Regions from separate parts of the Homo sapiens genome. Here region 2 is linked to region 1. The links come from fine-mapping of genetic effects on gene expression. A gene starts in region 1. The other region holds a variant in brackets. All regions are shown on one strand. Distances are between the middles of the regions. Region 1 holds the start of GSTM3 (glutathione S-transferase mu 3). Region 2 holds the start of GSTM1 (glutathione S-transferase mu 1).

What was found. PIP is the estimated chance that this variant, and not a neighbour inherited with it, causes the effect. A credible set is the group of variants that fine-mapping cannot tell apart.
Region 2: its variant is the best candidate, but not a certain one, in a credible set for the expression of GSTM3 in lymphoblastoid cells (GEUVADIS, PIP 0.88).

The regions. Positions count from the first base shown.
Region 1 is chr1:109,737,822-109,743,195 of GRCh38, forward strand. GSTM3 (glutathione S-transferase mu 3) reads right to left here and starts at 3,217. Exons shown (of 9, transcript NM_000849.5): 1 at 3,132-3,217; 2 at 2,419-2,690; 3 at 2,012-2,087; 4 at 1,608-1,672; 5 at 464-545; 6 at 270-370. The coding sequence starts at 2,466. RefSeq lists a silencer at 2,427-2,656.
Region 2 is chr1:109,684,525-109,689,898 of GRCh38, forward strand. It overlaps GSTM1 (glutathione S-transferase mu 1), which reads left to right and starts at 3,293. Exons shown (of 8, transcript NM_000561.4): 1 at 3,293-3,385; 2 at 3,646-3,721; 3 at 4,149-4,213; 4 at 4,524-4,605; 5 at 4,701-4,801. The coding sequence starts at 3,350. RefSeq lists an enhancer at 3,343-3,392. The variant C/T (reference allele first, on the strand shown) is at 2,955.

The DNA of each region.
Region 1 (5,374 bases):
GGACACTTAGTAGCCCCTTCTCTAGGTGGGTTCTCATTGCCTTCACTTGAGGATGGCAGGGTGGGGAAAGAGGAGTTTAGAAAGAAGAGGCACCAGCACCAGAATTACATGACAAAACAAACCAAAAAATATAAGTTCTGTTTCTTATTCTAACAATCTGGATTGGTGGGAAGGTAGCAGCAGCAGAATGGAACAGAGATAACCCTTGGGTTCCTAAATACCCCTTTTTCTGATACTCCATTCAGCAGATGTGTGCTAAGGAAACTCACGTGGTCAGAGCTGTAACAGAGCCTTATCAGTTGTGTGCGGAAATCCATTACTTGGTTCTCTATGATGTCCACTCGAATCTTTTCTTCTTCAGTCTCACCACCTGTAGGCCAAATGACAACAAATCACCCTTGGCATCATCCACTCTCAGACAAACTACCAGCCTGGGGTCCCTCACCAGCCCTACCCCACTCACACATGTTGTGCTTGCGAGCGATGTAGCGCAAGATGGCATTGCTCTGGGTGATCTTGTTCTTCCCATCCAGGAGGTAGGGCAGCTGAAAGGAAAAGGACAGGACAAATGAACAACCTGCCTCTCTCTTGATTCCCTACCTCTCTCTCCAGGGGAAAAGAACACTTGCAGGGCAGTGAACAAGAGTGAGAAGATGCTGTGTTAGGAGAAAAAAGAAAATAAGTAGAAGGTAGCAACTGGGTCCACAAGATTCTAGACAGGGGTTCTTAAATTGGTGTGTGTATGTGTGAGTGTATGTGCATGCCATGGACCTTTTCTCAGAATAAAGTTGTTAAATGCATGAAGCAAAATAGATAATTTACACAATCAAAAAATATTTTTAAAAATTCAAATAAGAGTAACATGTGCCTATTAGTGCATTAAATAGCAAGCAGATGTAATGACTAACATAATCTCAAAGTAAATAACATTATATGTATATATTTACTTACATGTATATAAATATCACTTAAAATATCTGCAACGCATGTTATAGAATATGAAACTACCTGATTTCAGGCTGGGCACAGTGGCTCATGCCTGTAATCCCAACACTTTGGAAGGCCGAGGTGGGAGGACTGTTTGAGCCCAGAAGTTCAGGATCAGCCTGGGTAACATGGCAAAACCCCGTCTCTTACAAAAATACAAAAATTAGCTGGGCATAGTGGTGTGTGCCTGTAGTCCCAGCTCCTTGGGAGGCTGAGGTGGGAGGACTGCTTGAGCCTGGGAGGTTGAGGCTGCAGTGAGCTGTGATTGCGCCACTGCACTCCAGCCTGAGCGACAGAGTGAGACACTGTCTCAAAACAAAAGAACAAGAAACACACAAAAAAGAAAATACCTGATTTCTACTAGTGACAAAGTGACAGACATGGCTAATAACCAATGTCACTTATTGTCTCTCTTCACAATAAAAGGAAATAACTTTTGCTAGTGGTTAATGGGAATGAAAATACATATCCATCCAGTTCAAGGACCCCTGAATTCTATTTATTCTATCCGGGTTAAGATCCCCTATTTTGCATCCTTCTGTACCAGGCAGGAGAGAGGCAAGGATGGATATACTTGAAGGCTTTCCCTTCTGCCCGCCACCTCTACTAAAGCCACTTACATTAGGAAAGTCCAGGTCTAGCTTGAATTTCACATCCAGCCATTGGCTTCGATCATAGTCAGGAGCTGTAAGAGACGGAATTAAGTGGGACCCAACCTCCTTAATACCCCACCTGACAAGAGCAAAAGATCTAAAGAAATGACTTGGTCCCAATACCTCAAATTCCCAGGCCCCAAAAGCATAACCATTGAGCCTCTGAGCCCTATTTGGTTAAGCATTAAGACGGGTTTGGGCTATGTTAAAAAGAGAACCCCCAGTTCCAGATAAAGGATGTGTCTCTATTCACCCAGATTGGGGCAAACGTCCCACCCGGCCTTGGCGCGACGCCACCACCCTCTGGGCGTAAGAAGACCAGGGCAGGTGGAGGGCCAGCTTGGCTGCACGGGCACGCGGAGCGGCATTACCTTCCCCGCACGTGTACCGTTTCTCCTCATAAGAGGTATCCGTGAACTCCAGGAGCAGGCGGATGGCGTGCGCCAGCTGGGGAAGACAGCGGTTCAGCGACTGCGCAGCTCCCACCCATTCCCAACCCCCGCCCGCTAACGTTCCCCGGCCCGGGGCTGCCGAGTCCCTGCGTCCTGCCGGGGCGGTGGTTAAGCGGCCCCTAGGCCCGGCTCCGGCGTGGTCTCCTCCGCCCCTCCCCACAGGGCCCGCGATCCCAGAGGCTGGGCAGGGGTCGACATCCGTGGCTCGGCAGCTCGAAAAGGCTCCCGCGTAGAGCTGCTCCTGCTGGAGATCGCGGACCCAGAGACCCGCCCTCTCCGCGTCAGTCTCTTTGACCGAGCGGCTCTACCGTTGAGACGGCACTCACCCCACGAATATCCCAGTACCCGAGAACCATAGACGACTCGCACGACATGGTGACGGGCTTCCGAGCCTTCGAGGACTAGGGAAACTGTGAGCGGGAGGGGCTTTATACCCGACATAAGGGGGCGGGGCCCACGCGCGGGCGCCCTGACTCCGCCTCCGCCCCGTTCTCCGTCCCTTGCCTCCGCGGCTCCACAGGGCCGTGCGCAGGCGCGACTAATGCCGGCGTTGGGGTTCAGGGCCTGGCGACCCCGAGGCGGGACCCGGGCAGGAGTGCTGCAGGAGAGCAAAGGACCCGAGGTTGAGGCTCCTCCCTTCCCCGCGGGTGGGAGCCAGACTTCATTCATTAATGGTGCCAGTGAAGACGCGAAAAGCACCACTAGCCAGGCAGTGGGGACCCTAGTTACCCAGGGAGAGCGAGATTCGCGCCGTTTTTACCGAGCCAGCCGGGGCTGGATGAAGGATAGGAAGACTGGGGCAAGGCCGGAGAGTCAGACCAGCCTCTGACCACACAGAGCAGAAGATTCCCCACAGACCAAGCTCCCCTCTCTGTCAGTCAAGGACCTCTGCAACCTGACCCCAACGTGCTTTTCCAGTCCTGTCTCTCCCTCAGCCCGTCACAACTTCATAAGCCAGCCCAACCCAACAATACTTGCTGTTCCTTCTACACACACTTGCATTTCCCACCTTGGAGTGTTTGCTCTGTGATCCTCCTACCTGCATCCTAATTTCCACAGCCTATCCTTCCTCAGCAGCCTTGCTGAAATGTCTGCCTATTCCTTGAAGCCTTCTCAGAACCAACCTCTATCCTGGCCAGAAGAGGTCTCTTATCTTGAATGTTTCCTACCTTTGTTTTATGGGCTTAAGTAATTTATGGATTCCTTATTATAATTTCCTCCTCCAATCCCTCCCACTTCCTAATGCTCACGCATTTAGGGAAATTAATCTTGCCTCTTTGTGTAGGATGGACTGGAGGAGGAAAGGTACTACCATTTTTCATTCACTCATTCATCTGTCCAACAATGTTTAACATGCCTGTTATGGACAGGCACTGTTTTAGGTGCTGGGGATACAGAACTGAACTCAACAGACAAAATCCCTGCCCTCAGGAAGTTTACATTCTAATGGGGAAGAAATAAACTAATATATAGTAAATAGCTAGTAAGTCAGGTGGTGATACACATCCTATGGAGAGAAATAAAATCGAGAAGAGAGATAGGGGGTCTCAGGGTGGGAACTGGGGGAGTCCCAGTAGGAAGGGGATTTATGTTTTTAAAGGTTATGTTCATAGAAGGCCTCATGGAGAAGTTAATCTTTAAACAAAGACCTGAAGGAGGTGAGAGATCAAGCCACTCTGCTGTGGGGGCCACCATGGGCTGATATAAATATAAAACAGAATAATTGCTGTTCCTTTTACAAGCATGTTTGCTCTGCTCCTGCCTGCACCCTAATGTCCATGGCCTAGCCTTCCTCAAGTAGCCGTGCTCAAATGCTCACTTCTTCCTTGAAGCCTTCTCAGAATCACCCTCTATCCTGGCCAGAAGAGTTCTCTCCCTCTCTTATCTCGAATCACTTCCTACCTGCAGGAGGCAGAGAGAACTCCAGGAAAAGGGAAACAGCAAGTACAGGAGTGATCACTCTGTGTTTGAAACCAGAGACTAGATGAGATCACCATGGGAGCACGAGTAGCAGAGATGAGGTCTAAGGGTTTGAGGTGCTCTGGCATATCAACATGTAAAGGTTAGGGAAAAATGAGAGCAAACCAGCAAAGGAGTCTGAAAAGGAGTGGCCAGGGAGGTAGGAGGAAAACAAAAGGTCCCAGAAGCCATGTGAAGATGTTTAAAGGGAGAAGTGATCAACTATGTCAAGTGTGGCTGATCAAGTAAGATGAAGATGGAGAATCAATGGTTGAATTTAGGAAAGTAGGGGTTTTGACCTTGACAGAGCAAGAGACCTGCCCGAGGCCCCTATAGTCATGGGAAGAACTAAGCTTCTGAATTTCGGCAGGGCCCATGCAAATGAAAAGGGGCACAGATTTGCAACAGGGTCAACTCGGGAGACATAGGATTCTAGTTGAATGTGGAGGAGTGACAGAGGAAGGAGTCCGGAGCTGCTCTGAGGGTTCTGGCCAGGCCTCTGCAGCACAGCTCTCAGGGCAGTCTGAGAGCCTAGATCCCCTAGCTCAGGTGTGGGAAATCACATTTGCCCATCAGTTCAACTGAAGCAAGGTTGGGACTTTTTAAAAGGGCATTTTGCTAAACAGAAGAAAGGAAGAGTACAAACCACATGGACAGGTGAAATTTATAATGCCTGTGTCTCTCCTCCCAAGAAAGCAAAAGGCCAGTCACAAATTCACCTGAGGTATAAGATTAACATTTATTGAGCACCTATCATATGCCAGGCAATATCTAAGTGTTTACGTATGTTAGCTAATTTATTCCAATTTAAGCTTCACAACAACTTTAGGAAGTAGGTGTTATGCCCATTTTCTTTTCTTTTTCTTTTTTTTTTTTTGCAGTTTTTGCATTACTTTCTTTTTTTTAAATTTTATTATTATTACACTTTAAGTTTCAGGGTATATGTGCACAATGTGCAGGTTTGTTACATATGTATACATGTGCCATGTTGGTGTGCTGCACCCATTAACTCCTCATTTAACACTAGGTATATCTCCTAATGCTATCCCTCCCCCCTCCCCCCACCCCACAACAGTCCCTGGAGTGTGATGTTCCCCTTCCTGTGTCCATGTGTTCTCATTGTTCAGTTCCCACCTATGAGTGAGAACATGCGGTGTTTGGTTTTTTGTCCTTGCGATAGTTTGCTGAGAATGATGGTTTCCAGTTTCATCCATGTCCCTACAAAGGACATGAACTCATCATTTTTTATGGCTGGATAGTATTCCATGGTGTATATGTGCCATGTTTTCTTAATCCAGTCTATCGTTGTTGGACATTTGGGTT
Region 2 (5,374 bases), 53 kb before region 1:
AATAGAGCCATGTTTTTCTTCTTGCAGAGAGCCTATAAATGGACATGCAAGTAGGGAAGATATTGCTAAATTCTTTTCCTAGCAGGGAATATTAATATTAATACTCTGGGAAAGGAATGCATTCCTGGGGGGAGGTCTATAAACAGCCGCTTTGGGAATGAATGACTGTCCTATGCAGTTGAGATAAGGACTGAAATACACCCCGGTCTCCTGCAGTACCCTCAGGTGGGGAAAAAACCTGGCCCTGGCAAATTTGTGGTCAGACTGGTTCTCTGCTCTTGAACCCTGTGTTCTGTTGTTTAAGATGTTTATCAAGACAATATGTGCACCACTGAACATAGACCCTTATCAGGAGTTCTACTTTTGCCTTTGTCCTGTTTCCTCAGAAGCATGTGATCTTTGTTCTGCTTTTTGCCCTTTAAAGCATGTGATCTTCGTACCTACCCTCTGTTCGTACACCACCACCCCTTTTGCAATCCTTAATAAAAACTTGCTGGTTTTGAGGCTCGGGCAGGCATCATGGTCCTACCGATATGTGATGTCACCCCTGGCGGCCCAGCTGTAAAATTCTTCTCTTTGTACTCTTTCTCTTTATTTCTCAGCTGGCTGACACTTATGGAAAATAGAAAGAACCTACGTTGAAATATTGGGGGCAGGTTCCCCAATAGCCTTGCTGAGGAAATTAAATTTATGTTCAAGTGCTATTTCTTTATGGCACCAAGGAACAAGTATTTCAAACAATACTAATGTAACAGTACTGGTTCTATGTGTTTCAAAATTATTATTCTCATGAGTGTTAGCTTTCTTAAAAAATCGTTTTTTTTTTCAATTGGATCTAGACATCTTATCTTTCACAGCTCAAGACGGATTAACTCAGAATCATAAACTCTTAATGCATAATGAGAAATATAATGTTTCCTAGGGCCAGGCACTTGTGTCTGTGCTGGTGCTATTGCCTCAATGCAGGAAAATCTATGTAAGAGTTCACTGTGAGGCCAAAACTGCTTCCTAAACATGGATACCTGCCAGGTATCTGAGCTGGGAGTACTGCCCAGGTCTGGATGGGCGGGGAGTGTTTGCAACAAGGACTGTGCCTTGCCAGCCTCAGTGACACAGTGTCCAAGTGCCCCAACTTAGCAGCCACCTGCTGACCACCTGATTTCTGTGGCCTAATAGGGATGTGATGAAGTCTACCTGTTTACTCAACCCCAAACCACACATTATCCAGGTGGTTTGAAACTTTTTTGATATACTGGGTTCATCCTCTGGAGTCCTAACAATGTTTTAGCTAATTTACAAAAAACAAAACAAAACAAAACAAAACAAAACAAAACAAAAAAACTACTTTTTTTGCAGCACAACAGCCTGGTTTACATTGCAAAATGATTTCTCATTAAAGGTCTATCATCTATTTCCATATGTCCATTATTATTTGCAATATCCTTTAAAGCAGTCAACCCCAGGCTAATCCATTGCACAACTCTTTTGAAAGTCTTCCTTCTACCTTGAAAGAAGAAAGTTGGCAGGTTGGACATTGTTCTCGTGGAGGTTGTACCATGGGTCACATATCACGGTGTGACTTCAAAGGCCACTGGAGCCACCGTCTCATACTGAAGAACACACATGGGTCAGGAGCCAGGTCCAGGTCCGGAATGGTGGATCTGGAGAGGGGAGGGTCCCTGCCTGTGGTCCTGTGGGGAGCCCTCAGGCTCCTCTCTGGCCACCATCCTCTGACCTCCCTCCTCAGCAGGACAGGGTTCTGGCTTCTCTGAGGGACAGGTTCTGTGGCAGGCCAGGCGTCACTAACACAGGCCTCCATAACAACTGTTTCAGTACTGACTGAGTGGTGAAGTTAAATATTAAAAGCTGAAAAAAGCCAGTACCTTTATACAGAGGCTGGATGTAACAAAAGCCCACCAAGAGTTTTGCTTAGGCCTTTCCTGGGCCTTAAAGCATGACAAAACAATGAAGGAATTCTTAACAGGACCTATTTAGAATTAAACAAGTTTTATTGTGAGTCTGAAGAAACTCCCCAGGCCTCCACAAACAAGTTTATTGGGCGTCTGAAGGAACTCCCCAAACCTCCGTGATTTAGCAGGAGACAAGATAAGGGTAATCATCCCCCGCACCTGGACCCATTTAGATTAAATAAATAGACTGAGGCTCCAGAATAAGGTCCTCAGGACCCAGACCTCAGTTACAGATTAAAGAAGTTAATCACTTATGTCTTTAGATGAATGCACACTTACTTGTAGACATATACCTTAGAAGGTATATATGCTCTGGAAAACTTTGTAATATTGAGTTGGTCTGGTGGTAATTTCTAGGCCTTCTCCCTGTTACCGGTTGCAGAAATAAAACCTCTCTTCCTCCCCATTTGATCTGCATCTCGTTATTGGGCCTAGAGAAATAGCAGCCGGACCCTCAGTTTGGTCCGGGAAGTTCTTCCATCCTCCCTCGCCTGCTCTCTGTGGCCACTGCACTCACTGTTGCTGTTGCTGTTCCGGTCTCTGTGAGGTTCACCTAGTGGACTGGCTGGACATTTCTAGGGGGCACCTCAGATACCTCACCAACTTGCTGGATCTGATCCTTGGATTTCGATTCATAAATTGTGCCAAAATACGAAGTGGCTAATTTACACAGTACTTAGCCAGATGACCGAAGGACTCAGTACCCGAGGGCCCCTAACAGAAAACACAGACCACATTTCCTTTACTCTGGCCCTTTTCCTGGGGGTCCTTCCTATACCACTGACACTGTTCCTGTGTAGGCGGGGCTAGAGGGGAGACTAAGCCCTGGGAGTAGCTTTCGGATCAGAGGAAGTCCTGCTCTTACAGTGACAGGGGCTGAATTAAATTCCCAGGTTGGGGCCACCACTTTTTAGTCTGACCCCTGCAGCCGGAGTCTCCCAGAGCCCTTGGGAACTCGGCAGCGGAGAGAAGGCTGAGGGACAC[C/T]GCGGGCAGGGAGGAGAAGGGAGAAGAGCTTTGCTCCGTTAGGATCTGGCTGGTGTCTCAAGCGCACAGCCAAGTCGCTGTGGACCTAGCAAGGGCTGGATGGACTCGTGGAGCCTCAGGGCTGGGTAGGGAAGCTGGCGAGGCCGAGCCCCGCCTTGGGCTTCTGGGCGCCCTGACTTCGCTCCCGGAACCCTCGGGCCTGGGAGGCGGGAGGAAGTCTTACTGAGTGCAGCCCCAGGCGCCCTCTCCCGGGCCTCCAGAATGGCGCCTTTCGGGTTGTGGCGGGCCGAGGGGCGGGGTCGCAGCAAGGCCCCGCCTGTCCCCTCTCCGGAGCTCTTATACTCTGAGCCCTGCTCGGTTTAGGCCTGTCTGCGGAATCCGCACCAACCAGCACCATGCCCATGATACTGGGGTACTGGGACATCCGCGGGGTGAGCGAGGGTCCGCTGGACGGTGGGACGAGGGCGCAGGGGAGGGAAGTGCGAAGCAGCTGCGGGACGGACTCTAGGGACCGTTCCTCTTCAGGGCTGCCCGCCTCAGAAGGGCCTGTGCATGCCGCTGTGTGTGTGTTGGGGGTGTGGGCGGGTAGAGGAGGCAACGGGTACGTGCAGTGTAAACTGGGGGCTTCCCTGGTGCAGACAAAGTCAGGGACCCTCCATCTCTGACGCGACCTGCGGGCCATCTCTCCCAGCTGGCCCACGCCATCCGCCTGCTCCTGGAATACACAGACTCAAGCTATGAGGAAAAGAAGTACACGATGGGGGACGGTAATGGCACCCTCGTGTTCGGGCTCTGCCCACTCACGCTAAGTTGGCACCAAGCAACCCATGGTGGCCACCTGTGGCTGCCTCTGCAGGCCTCCCCTGCTGGAGCTGCAGGCTGTCTCTTCCCTGAGCCCCGGTGAGGGAGCCCTCTGGCCTTGCAAGGCAGAATGCTGGGGTGGGATGCTGGGCCCCCTGTCTAATTGGGACGGGTGTCCCTCAGGGCTTGCCTAAACCCTGGAAGCCTTAGCTGTGTGGGGTCCAGAGCCCTCAGCGGGATTCTTTGTCCCTGAACCCTGGGATGTGGGACTGAGTGGTCAGATTCTAGATCCACCTGTCTCAGGGATCTTGCCACTGGCTCCGTGGGAGGGTCCCCGGGAAGGAGGGCTGGGCTCTGGGGAGGTTTGTTTTCACTTCTTCTTCCCCACCACAGCTCCTGATTATGACAGAAGCCAGTGGCTGAATGAAAAATTCAAGCTGGGCCTGGACTTTCCCAATGTAGGTGCAGGGGAAGGGGCGGTTTTGGGGGAAAGTGCAACGTGTCTCTGACTGCATCTCCTCTCCCCAGCTTAGAGGTGTTAAGATCAGGAGTCTTCTGCCCAATTCCTCTCACTCCTGGCTGTCTAAACAGTCCTTCCATGATGTTCTGTGTCCACCTGCATTCGTTCATGTGACAGTATTCTTATTTCAGTCCTGCCATGAGCAGGCACAGTGAGTGCCCGGTCTCCTCTCTGCTCTTGCTTATGGGAAGGGGATGCTGGGGAGCCTGGTGGCCCAACTGAGCTTCGCCGGTTTCCCATCCATCCAGCTGCCCTACTTGATTGATGGGGCTCACAAGATCACCCAGAGCAACGCCATCTTGTGCTACATTGCCCGCAAGCACAACCTGTGTGAGTGTGGGTGGCTGCAATGTGTGGGGGGAAGGTGGCCTCCTCCTTGGCTGGGCTGTGATGCTGAGATTGAGTCTGTGTTTTGTGGGTGGCAGGTGGGGAGACAGAAGAGGAGAAGATTCGTGTGGACATTTTGGAGAACCAGACCATGGACAACCATATGCAGCTGGGCATGATCTGCTACAATCCAGAATTTGTGAGTGTCCCCAGTGAGCTGCATCTGACAGAGTTTGGATTTGGGGCCAGGACTCTTGCATTCCTGCACACACTGGTCTTAAGTCCCTGGTACCATTCATCCTCCAAGTGCTTTCCCATACTATCAGCAGTTATTCTCACGACTCCAATGTCATGTCAACAAAAGCAGAGGCAATTCCCACCAACCTTAGGACACGATCCAGGCATCCCAGGGTAGAAATTCAGTTCCTGTATGGTAAAGTTTGTGTTCAGAATCTCCTTCATCAGCTCTGGCCTCTGACTTCTGTCCTGGGTCATTTCTGTCAGCCAGTTCACATCACCTGCCTGCTCCTAGAATATGCAGACTCAAGTAGAAGACTCAGGAATGTAATGGCACCCTCGAATTGCATCTTCTCCTCAACAGTTTTCTGAGTGCTGTCATTGACATGCACAGGGATCTGCGCATTTTCATAACAGACAGCTCAGAGGCAGTCAGAGGGCCTTTATTCCTCTCCCTCCTTCCTTTCAACTTGAACTTCTCATCTCCCTGGAAACTAGTCAATGTTCATTGTTTTCTTCTGCCACCCCATTAGAA